Homo sapiens: one gene and its partner. The protein of the gene in region 1 interacts with the protein of each later gene in a pairwise test. Each region holds a gene or a part of one and is shown on either strand. Other genes may lie near its edges.

What was found.
Region 2: the proteins of CLVS2 (region 1) and KAZN interact in binary tests that used the Homo sapiens proteins (3 or more experiments, as listed by UniProt).

The regions. Positions count from the first base shown.
Region 1 is NC_000006.12:123,006,209-123,013,367, forward strand, and holds part of CLVS2 (clavesin-2), read left to right. Parts: intron 1-4,776; coding exon 4,777-4,951; intron 4,952-7,159. UniProt on the Homo sapiens protein: Required for normal morphology of late endosomes and/or lysosomes in neurons. Binds phosphatidylinositol 3,5-bisphosphate (PtdIns(3,5)P2).
Region 2 is NC_000001.11:15,112,599-15,118,616, reverse strand, and holds the end of KAZN (kazrin), read right to left. Parts: coding exon of another isoform or gene 5,593-6,018; exon of another isoform or gene 4,147-5,592; coding exon 3,982-4,146; 3' UTR 574-3,981; downstream 1-573. UniProt on the Homo sapiens protein: Component of the cornified envelope of keratinocytes. May be involved in the interplay between adherens junctions and desmosomes. The function in the nucleus is not known.

The DNA of each region.
Region 1 (7,159 bases):
GAATGTTCCCCTAGATTTAAGTGAACATAAAGCATCGGAGTGTACCAGCTTGTTGGGGGTTGAATATGACCTTGACAGCTGGGGTGAGCCTATGCATGGGTGTACAAAACAAGAAGTATGGTTATTAAGGGAATGGTGCAGTTTTGAAAGAGCCATGGGGGAGTGGTGTTGTGTGCAGGACAATTTTTCAGGCCAATTAATGTTTTAGGACAATTTATCTCACAATAGAGGGTAGGCAAGATTTCTGGAAGAGAAAGATGGGAGAGAAAGAAAAAGAGACACAAGTGCCATTATATTAGGAAATAAAGCTAGGACTCTAGTAGAAAGAGTTAGATGCCAAAGATGTATAAATATATAAAAGACAAAAAAATTTAGGACTTGGTGAATAAATGTAGAGGGAGAAGGAAAGGGAATATTTGAGAATGATTCTTCATTAATTGATTAATGTACGCAATCCCAGAGGAAAATGGGAGACACTAAATTGAGTTACACTAATATATGTCAGGTAGCAAGGAGTCACTAAGGTGCTGATGTTCAGATGGCAACTAGAAAGATGAGGATGTTGCACAGGACTGACACTAGCTCTGTGGATATCGAGCCGTCACCAATGTATTGGCCAAGGGGATGAGTGCATGATTTGGTAACTCCAGGAGATACTATATGATGACAGCAGGGGAACAAAGTCTTATTTCTACATTTGGATGATCGCAGCAGGGAACCAAAGATGAAAGATAATAGACTGACCAGAAAAGTGGAAGGAAAAAAAGTTCAATGCAGCGTCACAGAACCAAATAGAAGAGTTTCAACAGCAATAATCGCAGAAAATATTTATGGTTTCTATTATATGTCAAGTACTGTTAAAAACTTTACATATATTATTTTGTTTCATTTTGTCCTCACAATAATTCTATGAAGTTAAGATTAAGTGGTTAAAAAGTACAAAAAGCAAGTATAGAATATGTGATTGTTGAAAAAGCAAAAGTCATACAATTGTAGAAGTCATAGAAGTTAACATTTATTGTTTGCTATGTGCTACCCATTGGGCTAAGTAGTTTACATTCTGTCCTATGAGGTAACTATTATTATCATCATTTTTAAAAGAGAAAAGGGAGACTTAGAAAAGTTCAGTAACTTCAAGGTGTATGAGACTAAGCTGCGATTAGGCAAATAATCAAGGATCCCCATTTTATTTTGTATTTGTTAATAGCTGTGAGTTTTACTTTAAAAAAGGCTTTTAAGTTACATAAACATGCCCCAAATAATTAATTCATGAATATATATCCTACTGTGCAAGGAAGACTGATTTCATAACTGAAAAATTTCAAGAGGTATTAGATGTTTTCCTTCTGATTGCACAGGTAGTACATAGTTGCTATGGGTATTAAAGTCTGCTCCATATGTTTTTTATGTGTTCTAGCAGCTTTTATTCTTTTCAAGAGCAGTATTCTACATAGTCTGGTGTCAGTTGTAAAATTTCTTATTGGTGTCATGATTTCTTCTTACTGCATGCTACACAGCATTCTTTTCACAAATTCAAATTTTACTTAATGCTATTTTGAGAAGCACAATCAGGAGTCAAGAGCTGCAATTATGTGCTAGTTTTGATTTATAGCTTTCTTTCAGCATACAAGAGAAGAATAACAATAGTGGAACTCACACAATTTCAGTGTAAACCCCAAACATGAACAAGTAGAGTATTTCATTGTAGTGACCTCTAATTTGTAAATTATAACAGTTAAAATAATTTTAAAAAGGAGAGTATGGCAGGAGTCCTGAAGAGATAAAATTCATAGATGCTACATTTCTTTGGAAGATATTTTACAGATTCTGGCAAGATCCTGTGTAGTACTGTTCTGCTGAGGAATAGCCTGCTGAGCTGCTAATGGTAATAATGTGAGATGTTTGACAACAGAGGAGTGGAGTTAAGAGTGGTTTTGACCTGCCCATTGAATGGAGTTAGCTAGTGTATTTTTATGTTTCTTTTTCTAAACTTCTAAATTAATGTAATTTTTATAAAAATCATTTGATTCTCTTCTTGGAGCCAGATATTGAATTCAAAAAAGGTGGTTAGACTTACTCTTGATAATTTTGCAAACCTACTTTTCTTCATTGCTGATTTTGGGATTTGCCTTATATTATTTCCTTTGGAATAATGATATGTGTATCAACGTTTATCTTGATTTTGAAACAGTTTAGGAGAACCATACTTCAAGTGTGTTATTTAAAACACATTGCCTCTTGTTTTCAGTCCTTACTGGTACCTTGATTAATTTTTACTACATACAATGTATCATCCTTCCAAAGCTGATTTCAAATTTAAATTTTATTTAATGCCATTTTGGTATTAATGCTATTTGATTTCTTATGGATAACATAAGAATGGTCAACCTCATAATGAGGGAAACCTTTGAAGTTAGACTTTTTGAATCCTTGATTTTCTTCACCGTGATATTATTATGAATTTCAGAAATTAAAACTTTTTTTTTTTGGTGGGGGTCTGAATTTCAACCAGAAATACAGTCTTCCTGCTCCAACCTTCCAATGCCTGTGTTTATAGGTTTCAGGTCCTGACAGTGTGTCAGGCCATTATGTTTAAAATGGAGGTAGGCCAGCCATAAAGGGACTTTTAAAGGTGTTCACCCACACATGTTTCAGAGATTTAATAACAAATACATAGCAGAGCTCTATAAAAAGTTTTATTATTTTATATATTCAGATAGTTTTTTGGATGCTGTATCCCTAGGCCTTTTGACTTTTGCCTTTTATAATACTAATAGCCTATCCTAAAGATTATCATTTCTGATTTATACTCTGCCTAGTAAACTATATCTGTGCTTATCATTCTAACAAAAAGTATGCTATGTGTGTATTCCAACCAACATTTACTGAACACCTGTTTATACCGAGAACTGTGCAAAATTGCACAAATGTTTTCACCTGAGTCATCTCTTTGATGACTCTCTGGTGCTGCCCTCAGTCCTCCCCCAAACATGGCCAATGAGATAATGAGAATAGCATGAGATAGGGACAGTTAACTGATCCTCAGAATTATAAATCAGCGACATATCCAGGACCATATGGCTAATGAGGTGCTGGGCAGAGATTGCATCTTGAAGTCTTCTGACACCATGCCCTGTGCTTGATTAATGCTAGGATTCTAAACAAGATTCTGTTCCAAACTGCTGATTTTACAGGTGAAGAAATGAGGTCCTGAAATGGTAAGAAATTGCCTGAAGTGCTAATGTTAATTATTCTTTCCTTTCTGAACTACTATGCTTTCTCCTAGCACATCCAAGTGTTTTTAGAAGTAAAAATAGACCTACTTCCTCATATATCTTCACTGTATCATACTGCCTTCCTAACGAACTCATCATTTCCACTAAATGGGAATGATTTCGACTCCTAATCCACTCCCCTCCCCATCCTGCCTCTTCCCTGAGGTCCAGATCTCTTTCTCTAGCTATTCCTGAAATCTCTCCTGAGTGTGTCCGGGGAAAAAACTTAAAATGCAAAGTGTACAAAAATTGAAATTGTTAACATCTTCCATAAAATTTCTCACTCCTCTTAAAGTGCTGAGATTTCTAGGGATTCCCTTTTTAGAATAATTATCTGATATTTCTCTTAGCTCTGACTGCATTACCTCCTTCACTTCATTGAACTTAGAGTCTATAAGCTTTTAATTCCAGAATTTTCAGTTTTGGGCTCTCCCCTGAGTTTAGGATCCATTTGTTTCAGAAGCTTGCTTGATATACCTCTCTGGGTATACTACATGTTTCTCAAATACAATAAGTTCTATTCAAAACTTTGTATTCCCAGCCATTTCCAACAGTATCCTATTTTTGCATTATTGATATTGATTAAAAATTTTACTATGTATTCAGGCTCTGAAGCTAAAATATGTGTCATTTTTTACTCTTCCCTAATTTCAGTCCTCACATTGTCACAGTATAACAAGATTGTCTAAAATGCCACTCAAATTTGGCTTCTTATTTTTGTTCTTAGTTCCGTTGCCTCCATTGAAGCAGTGTCTTAATCTCCAACCAGTGTCTTTCTACTCTAGTCAAGTCACTTTCACAGTAATATAAAGAGCATTTATTGGGTTACTGGAACGTTTCAGGAACTAACCTGCTAAGGTGAAAAGCAGAAAACAAAACAAAACAAAACACAACAAAAAAAGATCCAACCCTTGAATTAGGATGGTTTGTATTATTGTAGGTAAATTTCCATGACTTTTCCCACTTTTATTTATATTTATCTCCTTCTCTTTCTATCCCTACCACCTTTCCTTTTCTTTATGATACAAACTCAATACAAGTAATTTGAATTGAGTAACTTTTATTGATAGCTGTCATGTACAGTGTTTTCATTTATTGATGAGACTCACTCAAATCTCATTCTCAGTTTTTTCAAATACGAAGATATGAAATGTCAATATTACTGAAGGCATTCTTGAACCACTTAAAACGTGTGATGCCTAGTTTTGGGTTAGTTGAATGAGATTTTAGAAAATCAAAAGAAGGCCTGGAGGTAAACTAAATGATGATAAAATATGAAAAAGCGTTTCCATTTGTTTGGGCAGAATACATGTTAAATTCGATTATGTTCTTGGAGTACATATAAATTAAACCTCTTCCTAAAATAGGTTTTTAAACAAAATTATTTCCTTAAGATTCTGAAGGTATTTTAAAGTGAATTTTTAGTGTGCTAGAAAATATTTTATAGCTTTTTGGAAAAGTGGTTGTCAGACCTAATTTAGTACTTTTCTGTCGCCGATAGGTACACACTGGTGGATATTTTGCGTGCCATCTTACTTTCTTTAGAAGCCATGATTGAAGATCCTGAGCTTCAAGTGAATGGGTTTGTTTTGATCATAGACTGGAGTAACTTCACTTTCAAGCAAGCCTCTAAACTCACACCAAGTATGCTGCGATTAGCTATTGAAGGCCTGCAGGTAGGATATGGAAATTACCTACTTCCTTGGTCTCTTGTGTTTGACTTCTCTTGTCTAATGTGTTAGAATGAAAAAATGTCTTACTTACAGAATAACAAAAACAAAAAAAATCTGTAGTTTTTGAGCACAAACATTAAAATACTAACTGAAGAAAGGATTATAGAAGAAACGCTGAAGGAAGAGAGTTTGTGACACTAGTACAGTGCTCCCTGTCTAAACAAATACAGGTAATGAGCTGAGATTTTTAATCTGAAAATCAGAACAAGCAACATTTTTTAGATTGTAATGATTAGCTATTTAGGCTTGTTTTTGTTTCTTTTTTCTGTGCCTATTAATTAGCTAAATATTTTCTTCATTATTTCATTTAACCTGGTGAATTTGGGATATGATCAGCAATATGTTCAACTGTTGGAAAGTCAATCAATATGTTTTTTGGTCTCTAAGATGCAAAGATCATCTCTCTAAATTTTCTTTAGACTTCATTGGGTTTTTTTGTGAGTGGGAGGGGCTGTCACATGGAATTTATATAGGAATAGTGCTTCTTCCAGTGAGTAATGTTTAACTACTTGGGAATTAGAAGATGGGAAACATATTATTATTTAGTGGTCTGTCATAAACCTGCTATTGTCAAGTTGCTTTTAACTTCCAGGGTGTCCTTCTATTCTCTCTCTTTGCTTTATGCTACTTTGTGTACAATGCTTATGGAATTGATTTTAAACTTCTAAAAATATTTACAAGTTAGTCCTTGAGTGATGTAATTCATTAGACTGGGGCATCAATGTTGAGTAAGCCCAAGTCATCTAGATTTTTACTCATTAGTAATTTCTGACTGCATCTATACACACCTAAATTGATAACTGCTGACCTCTTAAAAGTGGGCAACTTTTCCAGGTGCTGGAAATCTTCGATTTCTGCCTCTGGACTGAATAAGACACACTGATGTTTCTTCTCCATATAGGTTTTTCCTGATGTAGGCTTCCTGACTTGCTCTTGGTGAGACAGCCTTGCTCCTCTCTTATCTTAAACAATGCTTTTTAAAAACCTCCACAGGGACAGTTAATACAGGATGGTAGACAGCATAAGATAATGCATGTTTGGAAATGTGTATATCATATAGAATCAGTCCTAACTCTGCCCTTTTTCCAGCAATGTATATGGTGTTCTTCAGTTTGTGAACAAGATTGGTTACCACCCACTGTGTTACCTAACACAGAATGGTAACCTAGCCTTTTATAATTGTTATCCCTATTTAACCTGTGTCTTCTCTTTGCACTAGAGCTAGGCTAGGCCTTCAGCTCCTGAAGGACTGGAGAACTCATATTTTTCTTTCCCAAGAAATTAAAAAAAAAACACTTCAAGAATAGACTCTTGCTATTTTCCAACCTACTTTATGGAGTTTTTTAATAATACTGTGATAAGTCATTGCAGGAGAACAAACTGACAATTTGGAGATGTTTGGGAGCTTCCTTGTTAGCTGTAACTACTATCAGAAGTTCTTTAAGTGCTACCTGTGAACACCAAGGAACTACACTCAGATGAAACCTCTGTGCTTATGTCTAGTGAAGGAAATAATCCCATTCTCTGCATGGACCTGTAATGGCTGCACATTTGGAGCTGCCTTCTCTCTGTTCCCCAAAAATATCTCAGCCCCTTTCTCCTTTTTCCCAGAACACAAGACAGAGTAAGAAGGGTTGATTCCTCCTAATTCCCAATTAAGACGCCACTTAAGAGAAAAAAGCTCTTCCTGGGAATAGATTTGATGTGTTACTAACCTTTAAACTCATTTTTATTTTAAGTTCAAATTGACTTTTTAATGCTATATAATTACATCTATACCTATGTCTGTGTCTGTATCTGTGTCTGTGTCTACTCTATGTATATCTAAAAACAATGGTAATTCTGAATAAGAATATAGGATTGCTAGAAATGTTCCGTTGTGACATGCATGATCTCATATTTAGTCTCGTACTGAAGTAACACTTTCTGACTTTTTAAATCAAGTCACTGTTTTACTTTGCATTTGCTATGTGACAAATATTGTGTACCACTATATGTTTCATTCAGAATATGAATAAACATTTTTTTCAATATCAAAATAAGACCACAAAATGTTTGAAGTAAAGATACATACACAGTTTTAGGTTGCTAAACACAGCCACCACCATGCCAAGACCATCAACACCACAACAGTAATAAACCTCTTCCAGT
Region 2 (6,018 bases), on another chromosome or scaffold:
GCACCTGCACTCCCAAAATACCTCCCCACCAGGTGATCCGAGGCCATGGGGCGGTCTGAAGGGCACTGTGCTGGGGCGTCCCACCACTAGAAATCCAGTCCGGTAATCTGAAGATGTAAGTGCCCCCAGGAGGAGTGACGGAGTGACACAAATGACACAAGGGGAGGGGACTTGTCAGGTGTCCACTCCTGACTGCAAGTTCCCAGGGCAGAAGGCAATGCCCCCACAGGGACTTTTCCAGACACTCCGAGTGCACCTGAATTGCATTTTGAGTGATGCTGCCTGCTAAGGTAAATCCTATGCTGGGAGGTGGGGGGAGGGGGGTTTGCCAACATTGCAGGGGGGTGAGGGTTGGGAGAGTGTGTAATTGTGAGGATGATCCTGGGATTTGGAGGCAGATGGACTGGGTTTGAGTCCCTGCCCTGGGATGTCTTAGCTTTACAGAGCTGGGCAAGGCCCTCCACCTTTCTGATCTCAGCTTCTCCATCTGTGAAATGGGTTCAAAATCTCACAAAGAGGCTGCTGGGAACACTAAATGAGAAAACACAGAAAAAAGCCCCCTCTGCCATAAAGTGCTGTGCAGTAGTATTTATTGTTACAGTGTTAAAATTCACTCTCGGGGAAGCGATTTGGGGCCACGGCCCTAGAAACTGCATCTTTGTTCAGAGCCAACCCATTTCCTCTGCAGCCACAAAATGCCTTTGTGTGTCAGGGCTCGGGAGATTCTCCTCGCTGGCCAGCCATTGGCAAGAATGCCAGACTCAGAGGTTGCCATTGCCCACAGGCTTTCTTCTCCTTTCCTTTCACAGCAGGAAGAGCCCTCCGGAGCCTCGAAAAGCAGAGTGGAAGTGGTGGTGCCCAGGACGCATGGGCTCTGATGGGAAGAGGGAGGTGGGCCTGAGCATGGGCCTTCTTCTCCCCAGGTCAGAGGGGCCTGGATGCCCCTGGAGGGAACACTGAGGTCACCTCTGGCCAAATCTTCCTGTTCTGCCAGTACCCAGCCCTGTTCAGTGACGTCAAGCTTTTGGGTCCCTGTCCTGGGGCCCTCCACGCTGGCCGGGCTGTGTAGAGACGCCCTTCTCTCCACTTTATTGGGTCCAGATTGTTGTGTGGCTTCTCCCCTCCTCTGCAGCCTGGGGTCTGAAAACAGCGATGCCAACAGACAGACAGATTTCCAAAAGAAAGGTCCGGCTCAGCCAAGGACAAAGGGGCCTCGCAGAGGCTCCTGGGGGTCAGAAAGCTGAGAGTCTACCAGGCAGGTGCCTTCTCCACCCACAGGCACAAGCTACAACAGCTTTCCAAGAAGTGCATCCACATCGTCCCCAGGTCCAGATGCCCACATTGCCCTGCAGGGACCAAGACCACACTCGGGCTGCTTGGACAGGATGTAGCTGGTCACTGTTCTGGAGCTGGCCCCTCTGTAGCCTGTGACAATCAGCTTGAGTCTCTCTGCCAAGTCTCCGCCTTCTGTTCTTCTTGCCGACCTTGAAGCAGAGTTGACGTTTCAGGTTTTTCCAGCAGACAAAGCTCACTCAATCTGATACTGTGGAGGTTGTTAATTTAACAACCAACCCATCCTCATGTTGAGAAACCAGCTCCAAATGCTCACCTGGCTGTCAGGGATGGGGAGCCTCATGGGTGAAAGAGGGTTGTGATGGCATAATTTAAACCAAAAGAGGCATTCGCGGTTGCCCGTGTTGCCTCAGGCCTGCTGGCCTCCTGCTGTGAACATTTTGGGCAATACTGTCTCTGCCAGTGACCCCCAATTGTCCACTTGTCTCCAGCAAGATCGAACCATGTAAGTGCCATTTCTGACAAGTTGGGTGAACGTTGGTTTCAAATCATCAGCTCTGCATTCAAGTGCCCTGCTACAATTCTGGCTCACTCTGTGGGAATAACTGCCTGCCTGGGCACGTTGCTGTTGCTGCCTCCCAAACGGCAGTTTCTGGGGTCCCAGGTCATCCAGGCTGGATGTGGCTTGGGAGAGACCTGTGGCACCAGGTTGGAGGGAGGTCTCACCTCTCCTTTCTGAGCTGTGGACTGCAGCTTCAGGACCCTATGGATGAGGCCGAATGTCATGAAGATAATGGAATTTGGAGTCTCAACAAAGCCAAGCCACATGCCAGAGATTCACCACCTGGGGCCCAGGATCAGAAGTGTGCCCTTAGGAGGCCAAACATCCACCTGTCTACCAACTAGACATTTGGTCTCAGACAGCAAGAAAGGCTGCGTTTATGTCATTAGGGGGAACACCACGGTCTTCGGCATGAGAGAGGTGTAATTCTCAAGTTCATCAGAGCTCGGCTTCCCCCATGAGAGGAAACAATTTGCCAGGTTGAAGAACACACGCTTTGAGGGTTCTCAGAGGCTGACACCTGTTGTGAATCTTGGAAACTCAAGCCCCAGTGCAAACGGCCTTGAAGGAGGTCGAGCATCATGGTTCCAACAAGTGACTCGCTTTGATAACCCGATGTGTAAGCAGAATCGCAATGCATCCGTCCTTCCCTAATCATCACGTGGCTGTCATCTGGTCAATGAACTGAGGCCCGAAGGCTTGAGTCAAACTGGTTTTCAAGGCTGTGCTCATGGGATTTATATGTTTCTTGAGCCCTGTTGGAGGCTCTTGGCAGGTCTGAACATTAAACATTTCTTTTCTTCCTTTTGCACACTGCTTCAACCTAAAGAGTTGGAGCGAACTAGCTCTATATCATTTCTGTGTTGTAAATGGGAAATTAGCTACCCCATAACTTCCCATTGTCTCCTGAGAGGTTACAAATTGTGTTACAGATATTAGCAAGTGTTAATCCTCACGATGTCCCTGGGAGGGAACCAGAAGTATCGTAGATGAAGACATCGAGGCACAGAGAGGTGAGGCCACTGGGAAGAAGCCACACAGCATAACAGTGGCAGGTCAAGAAAAGGGCTGGGGTTCTCCCCACCAATACCAAATGATTTTGCTCTGTGGAGTTTGTGTCTCGGTTAGGACATTGGTGAGCTATGTCACCTATGTTTCAGGTGACAGGGACATCACAACAAAGGTTTGTTGGGTTAACAATGTCAAGCATTTCCCTGCCCCAGACCCCAAACTCATTGCCACACTCCATACCACTGTCACGGAGTGCAGATAGTGGGGTTTGGAATCTCAGTAAAGCCAAACCACAGGCCAGAGATTCACCATATGGGGCCGTCGGTCATCCCCGATCCTGTTGTCCCAATAGCTTTCATTCTGGTGATAGGATATCTGCATCTCCTAGAAATGTGGCTGCTAAGCCCCACTCCTGCACGGATCATTCACCGGCTCCCCACTCAGCGTAGCCACTCCTGGGTGGATCGGCAAACAGCTCTTCAATACGTCCACCCCCATGTGTCACAGAGCTTTTCAGGTGGAAGGATTTTGCATTCTCCCAAGAGAGATTCAGTGAGCCAAGTCAGGACCCAAGTTCTCAGTCAAGGGTAAGATGCTGTAGCCGAGAGTTCCCCAACCCCCGCCCTGTCCGACGTCTCGGCAAGAGGCAGCACTTCCTGCACCCGGCTCTGCCAATGCACTGGGCGCTGGGGTGTGGGGTTGGGGTCCCCCCTGCTCCCGCCGGAAGGGTGTTTTAGGGAACTGTGGGCCTCCTCCCACCTTGGCAGCTCCGTTTAAGGCTCCAGGGACTGCTTGGCTGCTCCACAGTGACGGTCACTCTGAGGTGGAGCCTGTGTATCCTGGATGGAGGCAGGGCCGGACACTGTGACAGGTCCTCTGGGCCCATCTCCAGCTGAACAGGAAAGTCCATGGCCCACCCAAGACAGGTGGGCTGGTGTCTTCTCTCTCCTGGGCGCTGTGGAGCTGAAACCGCAGAGTCCATCGGGATTTTGCCCAGGAGCAAGGGACATCCTCAGCCTGCGGCCGCTATGTACAGTGAGAACGACACCTGGGGCCATCTGGCTTCTCTTCCTTCCTGGGTCTCTCACGTTGGGTCTGGTGGAGCCACCAGTTCCTTACACGTTGGTGACCTCCAGGCTGTTGTAGCCTTCCAGACGGCACTGTTCCAGCCTGCTCTGGGGGTCATCGTCTCCGCAATCTTCGTTTTGAAGAGAGCCATAGTCATCATGGAAATCGGGATCTTTGCTGCTGAAGCCCCTTCCTATCTTCCCCAGGGGCAGCTGAGAAGAGAAGAATATGATCAAAGGACAGGAAGAAGAGAAACAAGAATTAAGAATGAAGGTCTGGGAAATGTCTCCAATTCTAATTGCTCTGTGATTGAGTAACTTACTTAACCTCTGTGTGCTCCTCCTATTAGTAATAATACTCCCTGCTCAGGGAGGTTGAGGGGAGTTTGTGAATGACCATTAGGGGAGAGCTTTGTGTCCCCCTGCCCCCGGAAGGATTCAGTTGGTTACCAAGGGTGAGGACAAATATCGTTAGTCTGATTATTCCTGATTCACAAAAGCCTCCTTCTTCCCTCCTTGGTGGGTGGAGAGTTGAGGAAGTGTGTCCTGGAGACTACCTGTGAGAATGTCTGAGCAGGCCCATGAGGTCTGACTGCACTCCCAAGTCAAGGAGGAATATTCTAGACGGCCTGGTGTGGCAGAAAGAATGCGAGTTTTGGAGACTCACAGACCCAGGTTCAGATCCCTGCTCTGCCACTTCCCAGCTGTGTGACCTTGGACAAGTCACTTCCCCTCTCTGAGCCCATTTTTCTCAGCTACAAAATGGGAATAGTAGTTTCTAACTCCCAGGTTTGTTGTAAAAAGTAAAGTCCCACCAGTCTGGCCAACATGGTGAAACCCCGCCTCTCCTAAAAATACAAAAATTAGCCGGGCGTGGTGGCGAGCTCCTGTAGTCCCTGCTACTCAGGAGGCCGAGGCATGAGAATCACTTGAACCCAGGAATCAGAGGTTGCAGTGAGCTGAGATCGTGCAACTGCACTCCAGCCTGACAGAGACCCTGTCTCAAAAAAAAAAAAGTCAAGTCCCATCTGCAAAGCACATAGCAAGTGCTTGCACCGAGTAAGTCCTTGATGTACTTGATGAATAGTGACTATTATTATCACACATAGTAGGCCTTCAAAAATACTTCTCTCTTACTGCACACATCTCTGTGTTAAAGTAGTCACATTAGTGCTTTGTAACTATTTATTTGACTGCCTTTCTTTCCAGACCAGTGTTTCCAGATCTTCTTTTTTTATTATTATTATTGCTCCCTAAGGAGACTTTTTAGACAGTTTTTTCCTAATTGCACCCCTGCTGTGAAATTGTAATGCCACAGACATACTACGCCTCTGCTTCCGTACCATATGTACATTTGTGCTTTTACATAGAAAGAATAAGAATTTTTGCCACCGCCCCCACCCCCCACCAGCGCCAAAACAAATTTTCACTCCTTTGGGGGGCAATATCAGCCCCAATTACTAGAATGCACGTTCTAGAATGGAGCTTCTTAAGGGTAAAGTGGCAATGTATTCATGTTTATGAATGAATGGGGATCATGCCTTCTTCAAATGGAAGACATTTTGGATTACCCAGTTCTGCCGTCTCTGTCTGTGCATTTCCATTGAGGAATCTGTGTCAGTTGGAGTCTGTGCAATCAGACCTGAACTGCACATGTTTTCATACTGTTTGGTTGGAGTCACCAGAGGGTTCATCTTTGCTATTGGTCAGGTCACTGAAGTCGCAAATTGAAATCAGTGATTGGGGCTCAGAGTTTGGGGCTGCGCCGGAACCCTCTGGGCAGCCTAGCTGAATGCAGGATCCCCCTCGCCCCAGAGAACTCCTTTTCCAGGAGACCAAGGTGGGTCCCAGAATCTGCAAGTTCAGTAATAGCCCCAGGTGATTCTCATGCAGGCAGGTGAGACCTGCACTTTGAGATCCAGGTGCTACTCGAAGCCCTGCGGGGGCTTTGTGCACTGTACCCAAAGCATCGTGAAGGTTCCTTGAAGGTACATCCAGGGCATCTGTCCTGGATGCCCCCGTGACCCGGCCTGGCACTCCACCTTCACAGGCCAGCACAGGAGCCACAGAGCTCCCGGGAGGAGA